Linked DNA regions of Homo sapiens. The protein of the gene in region 1 interacts with the protein of each later gene in a pairwise test. Each region holds a gene or a part of one and is shown on either strand. Other genes may lie near its edges.

What was found. Proteins that work in one complex are often made in the same cells at the same time.
Region 2: the proteins of EIF2S3 (region 1) and ZNF829 interact in binary tests that used the Homo sapiens proteins (3 or more experiments, as listed by UniProt).

What each region holds. Positions count from the first base shown.
Region 1 is NC_000023.11:24,064,720-24,072,139, reverse strand, and holds part of EIF2S3 (eukaryotic translation initiation factor 2 subunit 3), read right to left. Parts: intron 6,143-7,420; coding exon 6,048-6,142; intron 4,177-6,047; coding exon 4,032-4,176; intron 583-4,031; coding exon 413-582; intron 1-412. UniProt on the Homo sapiens protein: Member of the eIF2 complex that functions in the early steps of protein synthesis by forming a ternary complex with GTP and initiator tRNA.
Region 2 is NC_000019.10:36,913,149-36,921,408, reverse strand, and holds the start of ZNF829 (zinc finger protein 829), read left to right. Parts: upstream 1-5,117; 5' UTR 5,118-5,398; exon of another isoform or gene 5,399-5,454; coding exon of another isoform or gene 5,455-5,613; intron 5,614-6,157; coding exon of another isoform or gene 6,158-6,241; coding exon 6,242-6,279; intron 6,280-6,386; coding exon 6,387-6,444; intron 6,445-8,260. UniProt on the Homo sapiens protein: May be involved in transcriptional regulation.

The DNA of each region.
Region 1 (7,420 bases):
TGGGAGGCCAAGGCGGGCGGATCACTTGAGGTCAGGAGGTCAAGTCCAGCCTGGCTAACATATAGTGAAACCCCATCTCTACTAAAATATACAAAAATTAGCTGGGCGTGCTGGTGCGTGCCTGTAGTCCCATATACTTGGGAAACCGAGGCAAGAGAATTGCTTGAACCCAGGAGGTGGAGGTTGCCGTGAGCCGAGATCGCGCCACTGCACTCCAGCCTGGGCAACAGAGCGAGAGACTCCATCTCTAAATTAAAAAAAAAAAAACCCTCAATTTTGGGGAGGTCAAATTTATTTACCTTTTCTTTTTTTCTTAATTTCATGTTAACTGTAAAACAATAAAACTCAACACTGGTTTAACACTCCCATTTGTCACTTTTTTAGAAACAGGAATTTTTAAAAAAGCATTTACCTTTGCTGCTTTCTTGTCTCCTTCAGTGCGTACACCTAGAAGCCGTCTAAGCAGGAAATAGGAAATTTCCAATTCTGTGAATATCTCAGGTAAAGCTCCGACTGCACCAAGTACTTGCCCCACCATTCTGTCAGCCCGGCACAAAGTGGGGTCAATTTTTGTTCCAACTCCTATATAAAAATAAGATGTATATAGCTCAATTTTTTATTTCCTAAAACACCTATAAAGTGAATTAGTTGGCCAGGTGCAGTGGCTCACACCTGTAATCCCAGCACTTTGGGAGGCCGAGGCAGGTGGATGCCTGAGCTCAGGAGTTAAAGACCAGCCTGGGCAACACGGTGAAACCCTGTCTCTATTAAAATACAAAAAATTAGCCAGGCGTGGCGGCGTGCACCTGTAGTCTCAGCTACTTGGGAGGCTGAGGCAGGAGAATCACTTGAACCCAGGAGGCAGAGGTTGTAGTGAGCCGAGATCGCACCACTGCACTCCAACCTGGGTGACAGAGTGAGACTCTGTCTCCAAAAAAAAAAAAAGTGAATTAGATACCCCAAAGCCATATAAGCACAGCATATACCTACACACTTTCATACTTTTATTTTTATACTCATATAATAGCTATATAGGTACAAGAAAATACCTGTTTTATCTAGACAAATAGAAATATACACTCATGAGATGACTGGGCAAATGAGAACAGAACGATTCTCTTGATTTAAATTCTAAACAAAGGGTTTAGAAATCTGATTTTCTAGGAATGATGGCTTGGCTGAGAACTTAATGCAGGAGATGGTAAGTATTACTGACCTGGTCTTGAAAACAATAAATTCTAAACAAAGGGCAAATAGAGATAATAAGTGAACTCAAAATGAGTCCGAATATCCTTAACAAAGACCGAAAGAATACAAAATTCAAAATGAGTAGTTTGCAGAATACCTGCATGCCATTTCTCCCCTGAAAGACTGATTGAAAAGATAGTTAAAGACTACATATGGGCCAGGCGCAGTGGCTCACACTTATAATCCCAGCACTTGGGGAGGCCCAAGTTGGAGGATTACCTAAGGTCAGGAGTTCAAGACAAGTCTAGCCAACATGGCAAAACCCAATCTCTACTAAAAATACAATAGCTGGGCATGGTGGCAGACACCTATAATCCCAGCTACTCGAGAGGCTAACGCAGGAGAATCACTTGAACCTGGGAGGCAGAGGTTGCAGTGAGCCGAGATCGTGCCACTGCACTCCAGCCTGGGCGACAGAGTGAGACTCTCAAAAAAAAAAAAAAAAAAAAAAACTACATATGATTCCTGGGATCTACTTCAAAATATTCTAGCTGTGTCTTGAGGGGAGTAGGGGAAAGAAGATATATAGATGGAGCAAGATTGATTGGGAAAACTTTTTTTTGCTGCTGTTGTTGAGACACAGTCTCTGTCGCCCAGGCTGGAGTGCAGTGGTGTGATCTCGGCTCACTGTGACCTGGGATTACAGGCTGGGATTACAGGCATGTGCCACCACACCTGACTAAATTTTTTTTTTTTTTTGTATTTTTAGTAGAGACAGGGTTTTTCGAACTCCTGACCTCAGGTGATCCGTCCACCTCGGCCTCCCGAAGTGCTGGGAATACAGACATGAGCCACCACGCCCAGCCAAGACTGGTAAAACATTAATAATTGCTGAAGCTGAGTGATGGCTCTATGGGGGTTATCATTACAGTATTCTATCCTATGTTTAAAGAGTTCCTTAGGCCAAGTGTGGTGGCTCACGCCTGTAATCCCAGTATTTTGGGAGGCCAAGGAGGGCAGATCACTTAAGACCAGAAGTTCGAGACCAGCCTGGCCAACATGGCGAAACCCCATCTCTACTAAAAATACAAAAATTAGCTGGCTGTGGTGGTATGTGCCTATAGTTCCAGCTACTCGGGAGGCTGAGGCAGGAGAATTAACTGAACCCAGGAGGCAAAGGTTGCAGCGAGCCGAGATAATACTACTGCACTCCAGCCTGGGTGGCAGAATGAGACTCTGCCTCAAAAAAAAAAAAAAAAAAAAAAGAAATTAAAAAAGTTCCTTAAGTTAAATTTTTAAAAAGTTTCCAGATTTCCCTTGTTTACCACACACATGCACACAAAAGATAAAATGATAGATGGAACTACAGGCACACACCACCAAACCCAGCTAATCTTACTATTTTATTGGAGAAATGGCATCTCATGGTTTCCTAGGCTGGTCTCAAACTCCTGGTCTCAAGCAATCTTCCCACCTCAGCTTCCCAAAGCACTGGAATTATGAGCATGAGCCACCATACCCAACCTGGTAAATTCATTTTTTCTTTTCTTTTCTTCTTGTTTTTTTTTTTTTTTTGAGACAGAGTGTCACTCTGTCACCCAGGCTGGAGTGCACTGGTGTGATCTCGGCTCACCCTCCGCCTTCTGGGTTCAAGCGATTCTCATGCCTCAGCCTCCCGAGTAGCCGGGATTACAGGCGTGGGCCACCACACCCAGCTAACTTTTGTATTTTTAGTAGAGACAAGGTTTTACCATGTTGCCCAGGCTGGTCTCAAACTCCTGAGCTCAAGCGATCCACCCACCTCAGCCTCCCAAATTGCTGGGATCACAGGCATGAGACACTGCGCCCAGCCAACCTGGTAAACTCTTTTTCATTTTTTTGTTTTCTTTTATTTCCTTTTTAAAATTTTCAACCAGAGACACAACTTATTGGGTGAAGAATTAACTGTTTCTTTACCAAACATTTTCTTCTTTAATCTAAAGGTACAACACCCCTTCTAATTCTCACTGAATCTTTCATTTTTCTGGGTATTGAGTAATACACTAAGTTGTAAGGGACTAGAAAAGTTTTTAAATCACTTCAGTAATTGCTACACAAAGAAATTTACTTTCTTTTATTTCTACCTCATTGGAAATACGACCTGATATCATTCAACTGACATTTGTAGGTAATTTTCCATTTGCAAAATATACATAAAAGCAACCATGGCCGGGCATGGTGGTTCACGCCTGTAATCCTAGCACTTTGAAAGGCCGAGGCAGGGGGACTGCCTGAGCTCAGGAGTTCAAGACCAGCCTGGGCAACACGGTGAAACCCCGTCTCTACTAAAATACAAAAATCTTAGCTGGGCCTGGCAGCATGTGCCTGTAGTCCCAGCTACTCGGGAGGCTGAGGCATAAGAATTGCTTGAACCTGGGAGGCAGAGGCTGCAGTGAGCCAAGATTGCACCACTGCACTCCAGCCTGGAGGACACAGCGAGACTCCATCTCCCAAAAAAAAAAAAGGCAACCATTATCTAGCACAAAAATCATGTTAACAAAAACATAAGTGTAGGTAAATATCTTACATGATAAGTCATCAAATTTATTTTTTTATATTGCTAAAAAGGAGTTACTCTATATTTGATCAAAATGTATCCTTTGTGTTTAAAAATAATTTTTACAAACCCATGAAACCATCTTATAACCTAAAACAAGAGCTTAACCACATGATTGTTCCCCACCCTACTCTATTATTAAAATACCCAATTAAAAATCTGTAATATGTCCCTTTTGGTAATCCATCCCCCATGAAAAGTACCACAAATAGCCACAAATTAAAAGAGATGAGAAAAAAATCCTTACCAATAAGACCGCCTGGAGCAGCATATTGCAGATCATTATGCTCCGCAAAAAGTGATACAATTTTGGAAAAGATTGGTTTACACATGAGTTTTCCTTCACTATCTTTGGAAACAATACCAGGTCTTACTTCTATCTCCTGGCCCACCTGTAAACATATAATTAGTAATTAGAATTACTGTGTTACGCAAAATTATCATTTACCTATCAAAAGTTCCAACAGGGACTGGGTGCGGTGGCTCACATGTGTAATCCTAGCATTTTGGGAGGCCGAGGCGGGTGGATCACCTGAGGTCAGGAGTTCGAGACCAGCCCAGCCAACATAGTGAAACCCCGTCTCTACTAAAAACACAAAAATTAGCCAGGTGTGGTGGCACGCACCTGTAATCCCTGCTACTCAGGAGGCTGCGGCAGAATTGCTAGAACCTGGGAGGCAGAGGTTGCAGTGAACCGAGATCGCACCACTGCACTCCAGCCTGGGTGACAAAGAGAGACTCTGTCTCAAAAATAAAATAAAATAAAATAATAATAAAGGTCCAACCGGAAGACCATAAAACTGAAAAGGCAATCATTCCTGTATTTCAAAGATCATTATTCTTAAAAAAAAAAAAAAAAAAAGATGTGAACGAGACTGTCAAAACCAGAACCATCCAACTGTTGTTAACTACCCACCACACAAGTCTATTACCACATCAAATGTGCTCCATACTTACAAGTCTATAAATTTTCAAGTCAGACACATTCAAAAGACATAACAGAAAACAAAGAAATATAGCTGGGCGTGGTGGCTTATGCCTGTAATCCCAGCACTTTGGGAGGCTGAGGCAGGCAGATCACCTGAGGTCAGGAGTTAAGAGACCAGCCTGGCCAATATGGCAAAACCCCATCTCTACCAAAAAAATTAGCTGGGCGAGGTTGCGAGTGCCTGTAGCCCCAGCAAGTCGGGAGGCTGTGGCAGGAGAATCATCACCTGAACCCAGGAGGTGGAGGTTGCAGTGAGTCAAGATCATGCCACTGTGCTCAAAAAACAAAACAAAAAAAAAACTATTATCAGAGCATGTAAATTAGTATAGCTACCATGGAGAACAGTATGGAGGTTCCTTGAAAACCTGAAAATACAGCTACCATATGATCCATCAGTTTCACTAGTGGGTATACATTCACCAGAAAGGGAAGCAATATTATCAAAGAGGTATCTGCACTCCCATGTTTATTGTAGCACAGTTCACAATAGCCAAACATGGAATCAACCTAAGTGCCCATGAACAGATGAATGGATAAAGAAAATGCAGTATATAGGCCGGGCAAAGTGGCTCACGCCTATAATCCCAACACTTTGGGAGGCCGAGGCGGGTGGATCACTTGAGGTAAGGAGTTCAAGACCAGCCTGGCCAACATGGTGAAACCCTGTCTTTACTACAAATACAAAAATTAGCTGGGCATGGTGGGGGGTGCTTGTAATCCCAGCTACTTGGGAGGCTGGGGCAGGGAGAATCGCTTGAACCCAGGAGGTGAAGGTTGCAGTGAGCTGAGATCGCTCCAGCTTGGGCGAAACAGCAAGACTCCGCCTCAAGAAAAAAAAAAAAAAGAAAAGAAAAGCAATGGCAGCATATATATATATGCAATGAAGTATTATGCAGCCATAAAAAAAAATTCTGCCATTTGCAGCAGCACATCTAGAATTGGAGGCCATTTTGTTAAGTAAAATAAGCCAGGCACAAAAAGACAAATATCACACATTCTCACTCATCTGTATATGTGGAAGCTAAAAAGGTGGATCTCATGAAGGTAGATTGTGGATTCAGAGGTCTAGAAGGGTGGGAGGAGTGAAGTTTGAAGAGAGAAAAAAAGAATATTAAAAAAGAGAACTCTACATCAAATACCAGAAACCATGGAAAAAATTTTATTTTTCAATTTGGATTGTCCATACTTTTTTTCCTGATTAAGACAAGGATAAAACAAACAAACAAACAACAAAAAAAAAAAACCCAAAATCACAACAACCAAAACCCATTTTACCTTTAATACTCCTTTTAGGATACTACCACCAGCTACACCTCCCTTAAGGTCATCAACTTCACAGCCAGGTTTGTTGACATCAAAAGATCTAATAACTAAAATAAAACAAATTAAAGTCAGTTCTGTTAATCTTAACTTTAGAAGAAATATTATTTTCCATGTTAATGTTTCTAAAATAGTGGCCATTTGAGATTTATACCAAAGGGGTGCCTTTTTAACAAAATCTATTATTATTCCAATGATTAAGCAGTCTTACTTATGATGGAAAAAATGAAAGTAACTTAAGTTTATTAATAAGTGGCATATAGGGTATACCAGTATTATAGAGCATCACGCAGCTATTAACAATGTTAGAGCTATATGTAATGATCTGGAAGGATGACCCTCACATACTGTTAAGAAAAGTTATAAAAATTACACGCATAATATAATCCCACTTCCATAAAGAAAAATAAAATAATCAATGTCTGTATATGGATTTTTTTTTCCCTCTATCATAGAGGCTGGAGTGCAGTGGCACAATCATAGCTCACTGCAGCCTCAAATTCCTGGGCTCAATCTTCCTGCCTCAGCCTACCGAGTAGCTCGGACTACAGGTACACACCACTGCACCCAGCTGTAATATTTTATTTTTTGTAGAAATGGGGTCTTCCCTTAATGCCCAGGATGGTCCTGAACTCCTAGCCTCAAGCAATCCTCTCACCTCAGCGTCAGCCTCCCAAAGTGCTGGGATTACAGGTGAAAGCCACCATGCCCAGCCTGTGTATATGTTTATACACGATGATATGAACAAAGAGAAAAGTGTGGGAATAATGGACACCAAATGTTAACTTTGCTGACTTTAGGGCTAAGGAACTAGAACTTGAAGACAGAGAGATTATGGACATTTTCTTTATAGACCTCTGTAACTCCTGTAAGAACAATTCAGCTTTATAACTATAAAACACTAGGACTACATGACCTGCACTTCGGAGACTATTTCCTACTAAACACCAGAAGCTCGGATGAAAGCCAGAGGAGCTCAAATGTCTGTTTCGAGAAGGCTACTACATCCCCGTGTAGGAACCACAAGCCTAGGTGATCAAATTATACCAGTATCAGTTCTTCGTTAATTGAACAACAAAATCATCTGTAAATGTTTTAGTCAGGAAGTTCTAACACCCTAAAACATTATGATTCCATGGAGAATACTGTATTACTCCATCTTGATCATGTACCATATATTAAGCACAGAAAGGTTAGCAGTTGTTTTTGGGTTTTTTTGAGACGCAGTTTCACTCTTGTTGCCCAGGCTGGAGTACAATGGCGCGATCTCAGCTCATTGCAACCTCCGCTTCCCGGGTTCGCGCCATTCTCCTGCCTCAGCCTCCCGA
Region 2 (8,260 bases), on another chromosome or scaffold:
GTTCACTGCAACCTCCGCCTCCTGGGTTTAAGTGATTCTCCTGGCTTAGCCTCCTGAGTAGCTGGGATTACAGGCATGCGCCACCACGCCCGGCTAATTTTGTATTTTTAGTAGAGATGGGATTTCTCCATGTTGGTCAGGCTGTTCTTGAACTCCTGACCTCAGGTGATCTGCTGGCCTCAGCCTCTCAAAGTGCTGGGATTACAGGCATAAGCCACCATGCTTGGCCGACAGTGATCACTTTCTAACAAACTATTAATATATACAGTCACGCATCACTTTGCAACAGAGATATGCTCTGAGAAATGTGTCATTAGGCAATTTCATCATTGTGCAAATATAAGTGTACTTACACAAATGTGGATGGTATAGCCTACTACCCACCTATGCTATATGGTATAGCCTATTGCTCCTAGGCTACGAACCTGTATGGCATGTTACTGTACTGAATACTGTAGACAACTGCAATACAAAGGTAGGTGTTTGTATATCTAAACATACCTAAACACAGGAGAGAAATGGTAAAAATATAATATAAAAGATAAAAAATGGTACACTGGTAAAGGGCACTTACCATGAATGAAACTTGCAGAACTGGAAGTTGCTCTGAGTGAGTGGCGAGTGAACGCAAAGGCCTAGGACACTACTGTACACTACTGTAGACTTTATAAACACTGTACACTTAGGCTACACTAAATTTATAAAATTTTTATTTCTTCAAATTGTTGAATTAGCCTTAGCTTACTATAACTTTGTTACTTTATAAGCTTTTCATTTTTTTTTTTTTTTAGATGGAGTCTCACTCTGTCACCCAGGCTGGAGTAATGGCACCATCTTGGCTAACTGCAACCTAAGCCTCCTGGGTTCAAGTGATTCTCCTGCCTCAGCCTCCCAAGTAGCTGGGATTACAGGTGTCTGCCACCACACCCGGCTAATTTTTGTATTTTTAGTAGAGACGGGGTTTCACCATGTTGGTCAGCCTGGTCTCTAACTCTTGACCTCCTGTAATCCACCCGCCTCGGCCTCCCAAAGTGCTGGGATTATAGGGGTGAGCCACTGTGTCCAGCCAGCTTTTCAATTTTTTAAAACTTTTTGACTCTTGTAGTAGCACATAGCTTAAAATGCATTGTACAGCTGTACAAAAATATTTTTTCTTTATATCCTTATTCTATAAGCTATCTTCTTAAAAATTTTTTAACTTTTTAAACTTTCTTGTTAAAAATTAAGACACAAACACCCATTAGCCTAGGCCTACACAGTGTCCAGGATCATTGGTGCTGGCTTTCACCTCCACATCTGGCCCCACTGGAAGATCTTCAGGGACAATAACACACACAGAGCTATCACATTCTATGATAACAATGCCTTCTTCTGGAATACCTCCTGAAGGACCTGAGGCTGTTTTACAGTTAACTTTTTTTAAATAAATAGGCATATGCTCCAAAGTAATGATAAAAAGTATAGTATAGTAGGCACATGAACCAGTAACATATTTATTATCATTACCAAGTATTATGTACTGTACATAATTTTATGTTATACTTTTATATGACTGGCAGCAGAGTAGGTTTGTTTACAGCAGCATCACTGCAAACACATGAGTAATGGTATTGTGCTACAGTGTTATATTGGCTAGAAAGTCACTAGGTGACAGGAATTTTTCAGCTCCATTATAATCTTACAGCAGGGGTCCTCAACCCCTGGGCCACGTACCGGTACTGGTACAGTACTGGTTCCTGGTTAGGAACCAGGCCACACAGCAGGAAGTGAGCAGCAGGTGAGTGAGCATTACCGCCTGAGCTCCACCTTCTATCAGATTAGTGGTGGCATTACAGCCTTACAGGAGTGTGAACCCTCTTCTGAACTGTGCATGCGAGGGATATAGGTTGCTTGCTCCTTATAGGAATCTAATGCCTCATGATTTGAGGGACAACAGTTTCATCCTGAAACCATAACCCTCCCATCCCCCAGTCCCTGGAAAAATTGTCTTCCACAAAACCACTCCCTGGTGCCAAAAAGGCTGGGGACCACTGTCTTACAGGACCACTGTCATGTATGTATATAGTCCATACATATATGGCACATGACTATAATTTAGTTATATATACTGTCCACCCACCCCCCTCAACATAAACTCCATGAAAACAAGGACTTATTTTTGTCTGTTTTTGATATTCATAGTAGGTGCTCAAAAATATGCTGATAAAATGGTTCAGTCATTATCGAAAACACTATGACAATCAAAGATTAAAAACAGACATTACCACATGTATATATAAAAAACTGAAAGCAGGGACTCAGATAGTTGTATACCCATGTTTGTAGCAGTGTCACTTGCAATTGCCAAAAGGTAGAAGCAGCCCAAGTGTCCAATGATGAATAAATTGATAAACAAAATATTTATCCATATATGACATACTTATCATTCGGCCTTAAAAAAGGAGGAAATTCCAATACATGCTAACATGGATGAATCTTGAGGACGTTATGCTAAGTTAAATCAGGGTCACAAAAGCACAAACAACATATGATTCTGCTTATATGAAGTATTTAGAATAGTCAAATTCAGAGACAGAAAGTAGAATGGTAGATGCCATAGGCCGGGGGAAAGGGGGGTACAGAGTTATTGTTTGATAGGTACTGGGTTTCTGTTTTGCAAGAAGAAGAGTTCTCTGGCTGGATGGTGGTGACGGTACCATAACAATGTGAATGTACTTCATGCCACTGAACTGTACACTTATATATGGTTTAGATGGTAAATTCTATGTTGTGTATTTTACCACAATTAAATATACATGTGTGTATACATAGTTGGTCCTCCTTATCCACAGGTTCTGCATCCTCAGATTCAATCAGCCTCAGATAAAAAATACAGTTAGGCCTACTACAGTTGTGTCTGTACTGAACACGTACAGTACAGATTTTTTTCTCATTATTCCCTAAACAATAACGTGTAACAATGATTTACACAGCATTTACATTATATTAGGTATTACAAATAATCTAGAGATGATTTAATGTATAAAGAAGGATGTAGGGACTTGAGCATCTGTGGATTCTGGTATCCATGGGGGGTCTTGAAACCAACCCCTCCTGGATACGAACTGTATATAGAATAAATGAGCTACTACTACTAATTTGGGGATTTAAAACTAGAAGAGAATAGGCTGGGCATGGTGGCTTACGCCTGTAATCCCAGCACTTTGGGAGGCTGAGGTCGGCAAATCACGAGGTCAGGAGATCTACCATGGTGGCTAACATGGTGAAACCCTGTCTCTGCTAAAAATACAAAAAATCAGCCGGGCGTGGTGGCGCGTCTGTAGTCCCAGCTACTCGGGAGGCTGAGGCAGGAGAATCGCTTGAACTCGGGAGGCGGAGTTTGCAGTGAGCCGAGACCGTGCCACTGCACTCCAGCCTGGGTGACAGAGCGAGACTCCGTCTCAAAAAAACAAAACAAAACAACAACAACAACAAAAACTAGAAGAAAATAATATATGAGACAAGAATAACACAGAAATTGGTGGATATTTTGGAGTTCAAGTATTTTAAAGTCTTAAGGTTGAGTTTTGTTAAGCATGCATATTAAAAAAGGATAATAGCAGAAACCAACCTAGGGGAGAAAAAGGGATAAGGTGAATTTGCACAATAAAAAAAGATATATGTGCAACTATTATATGTCAATCAAAAATGTTTAAGGCGTAATAGAAAATAAAACATTTTTTATGAGCAATCATGATAAATGCCACTGAACTATACTCACCTATTAAAATAACAGTCAAACAAGATAAACGGATGTAAGCCCAGCAATATGCTCTTTACAAGACACAGATCTGAAACATAAAGACACAAGGGGGTTAGAAAATGAAATTCTTAAGAAATACAATAAAACTTGAAAAGCAATATTATCAGACAAAAGAGAACCCGGACTAAAAGGCATTCACCAGGATAAAGAGGTATGTTTCTTAAGGTGGTAGACTGGAATTTTAGTCCAATTCCTCACACCCTCTAATAGATTATTATTCATACTCTTTGCGAGGTAACTTTGCTCTCCAACTGTGGGCATAATTGATTTTAGGCTTAGCCATGTGACTTGCTCTGGTTGAGGCAATCTCTCTTGCGCTCTGGTGACCCATCAGGAGCAGAGCATGCCCTGGCAACAAATGTCCTTTTGGCCTGAGACCCTGAAAGAACACATGCGGCGCAGATCTTAACTCGTCACGCAGCCTATCCACTCAGCCAAGCCCCACCTAGATCAGCTGAACACAGTCAATGCGCAAGCCTGTGAACAGGAGAGTAAGGACTTGCTGTTGTATGGCATTGAGTTCAGGGGTGGTTTTTAGACATAATTATTATCATGGCAATAGCTAACTAACATACATAAAAGCAGCAAGTCATAAGATAATAATGAACCTGAAAAGTTCGCCAAGGAATAGTGGAAAATTACAAAGGGCCAAGGGCTACTAGGGTAAAAAAGACAGCAAAGAAGACTACAGAGGAGTGGCCAACAAGGAGGGAGGATCAGTAGAAAACAAATAAGTGTTTTTCAAGCCGTTACCAACTGTGCCAAATGCTACAGAAAAGCCAGCTCAAGACAAGAACTACTAGACATATTACAATCACGCACACTTCGCCACGTTCACACTCGCTACAGCCTTAATCATAATCACACACATATCACACATTTCATCATAATCCCGCGCAACCAAATATCACAATCACCCCATCAGATTATTCGTGCCGTCACACTCACACACACAACCACACACCCACACTAACTCCCATCACAGTTTTTTGTCCCATCAACTGCAACCACTCACCATTAGCGTACCCTGAGCACTCCCCACTGCCGCTACTCGGGACACTCTGGGCCTTAGAGGATCCGTGTCCCGTCAACCGCGAGTCCCTTGCTCGCCCCCTGCTGCGGGGACTCGGCAGCGTCACCTGCCGGAAACACCCGAATGTTCATCCCGCGCGCAGTTTCTGAGATGCTGGGTGAAGGCGACCCGCAGATAGGTCTGTGACAGACGCCTAAAGCGCCGAACCATCCCTCCGCGCCAGCGACGTTTCCGAGGACAACACCTCCCAGCAGGCCCCGCGGCCCCACTCAACTTCCGGCCAGAACACATCTGCTTTCCTGTGTGAGGGTGAGGCTTGGGCCGGGTTCCCCGGGAGGCTCATCTCCATTGCGCAGCGCTACGGCGACCCGCAACTCCGAGGCTCGGCTGGATGTTGAGAGTTGAGGGAGCAGCCGTTTCGGGTGGGCCCAGGCGAGGAGCTGACAGGAATCGGCGTGGGTCCCGCTCTGGACTACATTTCCCAGAGGGCCTGGTGGCCTGCCACTTTTCTCGCAGGAATTCGAACGTTTCGTCACTCCTGGCGGGACCCTTAGATCTGGGAGGTGAGATATTTTGGTCCCCAGGAGAACTGGCTCAGGTCTGCAAGTTCCCATCCGGGATGACTGGAAAGGGCTTAGGTGAGGATACCGAAGACCGATGGGGAGCTGGCGCCTTGGGCCCCTGCGGGCGGAGCGGCCTGAAAGGTGGAGGTTGTGTTTGGGAGGCCGAGGCAGGAGGATCACGAGGTCAAGAGATCGAGACCATCCTGGCCAACATGGTGAAACCCCATCTCTACTAAAAATACAAAAATTAGCTAGGCATGGTGGCGCGCGCCTGTAATCCCAGCTACTCGCAGGCTGAGGCAGGAGAATCACTTGAACCCGGGAGGCGGAGGTTGCAGTGAGCCGAGATCGCACCACTGCACTCCAGCCTGGCGACAGGGCAAGACTCTGTCCCCACCCCACCCCACCCCCCCAAAAAAAGAGGGGAGGTTGTGAAATTGTCTGGGAGATAATAACACTGCGGCTTATGTGCGGATATGGGATACCTGTCACTGTGGGGGTTGTGGCTGTGTGTTCCCGTGGTGATGTGTGATTGTGACTCTGCGACAGTGTGGGGTGCCTACGATTGTGCAGCTGTAATTGTGTGTTTCCTATGGTGTGTATGTGATTGTAACTGTGTTGCCGTGTGTGGCTCCTTGTGGGCAGGTGAGACGTGCATGTCGCCTTAAGTGTGACTGTCCCTAAATGTATGTGGCATTCTGTGTATGAGTATGGGGTCCTGTCAACTATGCGATTGTGACTCCAGAACTCTGTCTCTAGGAAACCTCTCTGAGGTCTGGTCAGATTCCAACCCTGGACAGCAGTGAACACAACCTTTCCCCTGAGCCACTGGAATTGGACAGAATGCCCCATTCTCCTCTGATCTCCATTCCTCATGTGTGGTGGGTAATGGGGCTGGGGAAGAACTCTTACTTGACTAATCTGGGTACCAAGAAAAACCTGGTGTCTCACAGTTACTCTTCCCTCTCCCAATTTTACCTTTCTCCAGGTGTCACCCAGAAGAGGAGGAAAGAATGCATGATGAACTTCTACAAGCAGTATCCAAGGTGTGTTGGGGTTTCCTCTTTTTCTTCTGAAAATTCTTGCTTAAAGGAATGTCATTTAATTATAGGTCCCTATAATTTTCCCATCACAGAAAAGGATGGTTGCTCCACTTATGCTTGCTGAATTTTCTTCTCAAATATTTATTCTGATTTAAAAATAAAAGGATGATTAATTTAGAGATCTCAAAAACACAGCATTACCAAGAAAAAATAAAATTTAGCCACTCAGATAACTAGGGTTAATATTTTAATGTATTTTCATTATTTGTCAAAAACCAAATTTTATTTCATTTACCATTTGATGTTCTACATTTTTGCAAAAAGAAGTGTCAGAAATATTCTCCCATGTCATCAAATGGTCTTGGGAAATACATTTTTGATGTTTGCAAAAACTATGATATACAAATCAGACATGCCAGACTTTTAAATCCTCATTTGAATATATATCTGTACTTATACCCGCCCACCCCCACAGGTTTGAATTTGGGTTTCCGTGATTAATAATAAAATTGAACATATTCCATATGTTTATTGGTTTTTAGTCATCTTTTGTGACATGTCAGTTCAAATCTTTACTCATTTTTCTCTTGGAATAGCTCTTATTGATTCGTATGAGTTATTTATGTAATCTGGATCTCAGTCCTTTATTGATTGTTTTCCTACTATTTGGACTATTTCATCATTTCCTGTAAGATGATTTTATGATAAGTTCTAATTTTTAAAAAGCTGAGTTTATCAATATTTTTTCTTTATGGTTAGTGCTTTTTGTATCTTTTTAAATAAATCCTTCCCTGTCCCAAGGTCATGCAGATACTCTCCTATATTTATGCTTAAAGCCATAAGTTTCACTTTCATGTTTAGATATTTTATATAGTTGCAACTGGTTTTTGTATATGTTATGAGGTAAGAGTCAGATTCCCCCCTCCTTATTAATACCCAGTTTATCAATACCATATATTGGAAGGTCTATTGTGTTCTCATTGGTCTTCAAATATACCTAGTGTCTATATGTGCATGGGTATGTTTATGAACTCTTTATTCTCTTCCACTGATTTTTTATATTCCTGTGCCAGTATCATACAGTCTTGATTAGCTCGTCTCCCTTGATGGTAATCTGCCTTGTCTTCCTCTGACTGTTTTGTTTTTGGCTTTCTGTAATTTTAGTGTAAGATATATAAATGTGTTTTATTTGTCTGCTTGGGATTTGTAGAGTTTTAAAATTTATGGATGGATATCTATTATTAGTTCAGGAAAATCTTCAGTCATTATACCTTCAAAAAGCCCCCGTATCATTCTCTCCCCCTTTCCTTCTCAGGTTCTAACTAAACATATGTTAGAATTTCTTCTTCTTTTCTGTGTCTTATCTCTTTTTGGTTTTTAGAGTTGATACTTATAGCTGAAATCAAAGCAAACAAAAGAACCTTGCCTCATCTCAGGAGGGGGCAGTGGGCATGGCAGGCAATTACAGAGTTTTTGGATTCTTCCTCCAAGTAATAATAAAAATATCTTTATTCAGTTTGTGTTTCAACACTTCTAATCTTGGGGAACTCACTAAATTGTAAGGTTATCCATTCACCAGGTAATCATTTTATCTGAAAATTAGAGGATACATACTAGGATAGAGGACTCAGAATAGTGACAATGTTTTCTCAAGGTGTAAATTTGGAACTCTGAGTGGGCCTACTCTCAATTTTTAAATTGTATGTGTTTGGTACAGATGCAGAGAAAATCAGGATAAGAATAAGTCTAACTAAGTATTTTGTGTAAGGCCTTTCTATCTGAATTTCTTTTAAAGAGGACTGAGTCTTCCCTCTCCTGT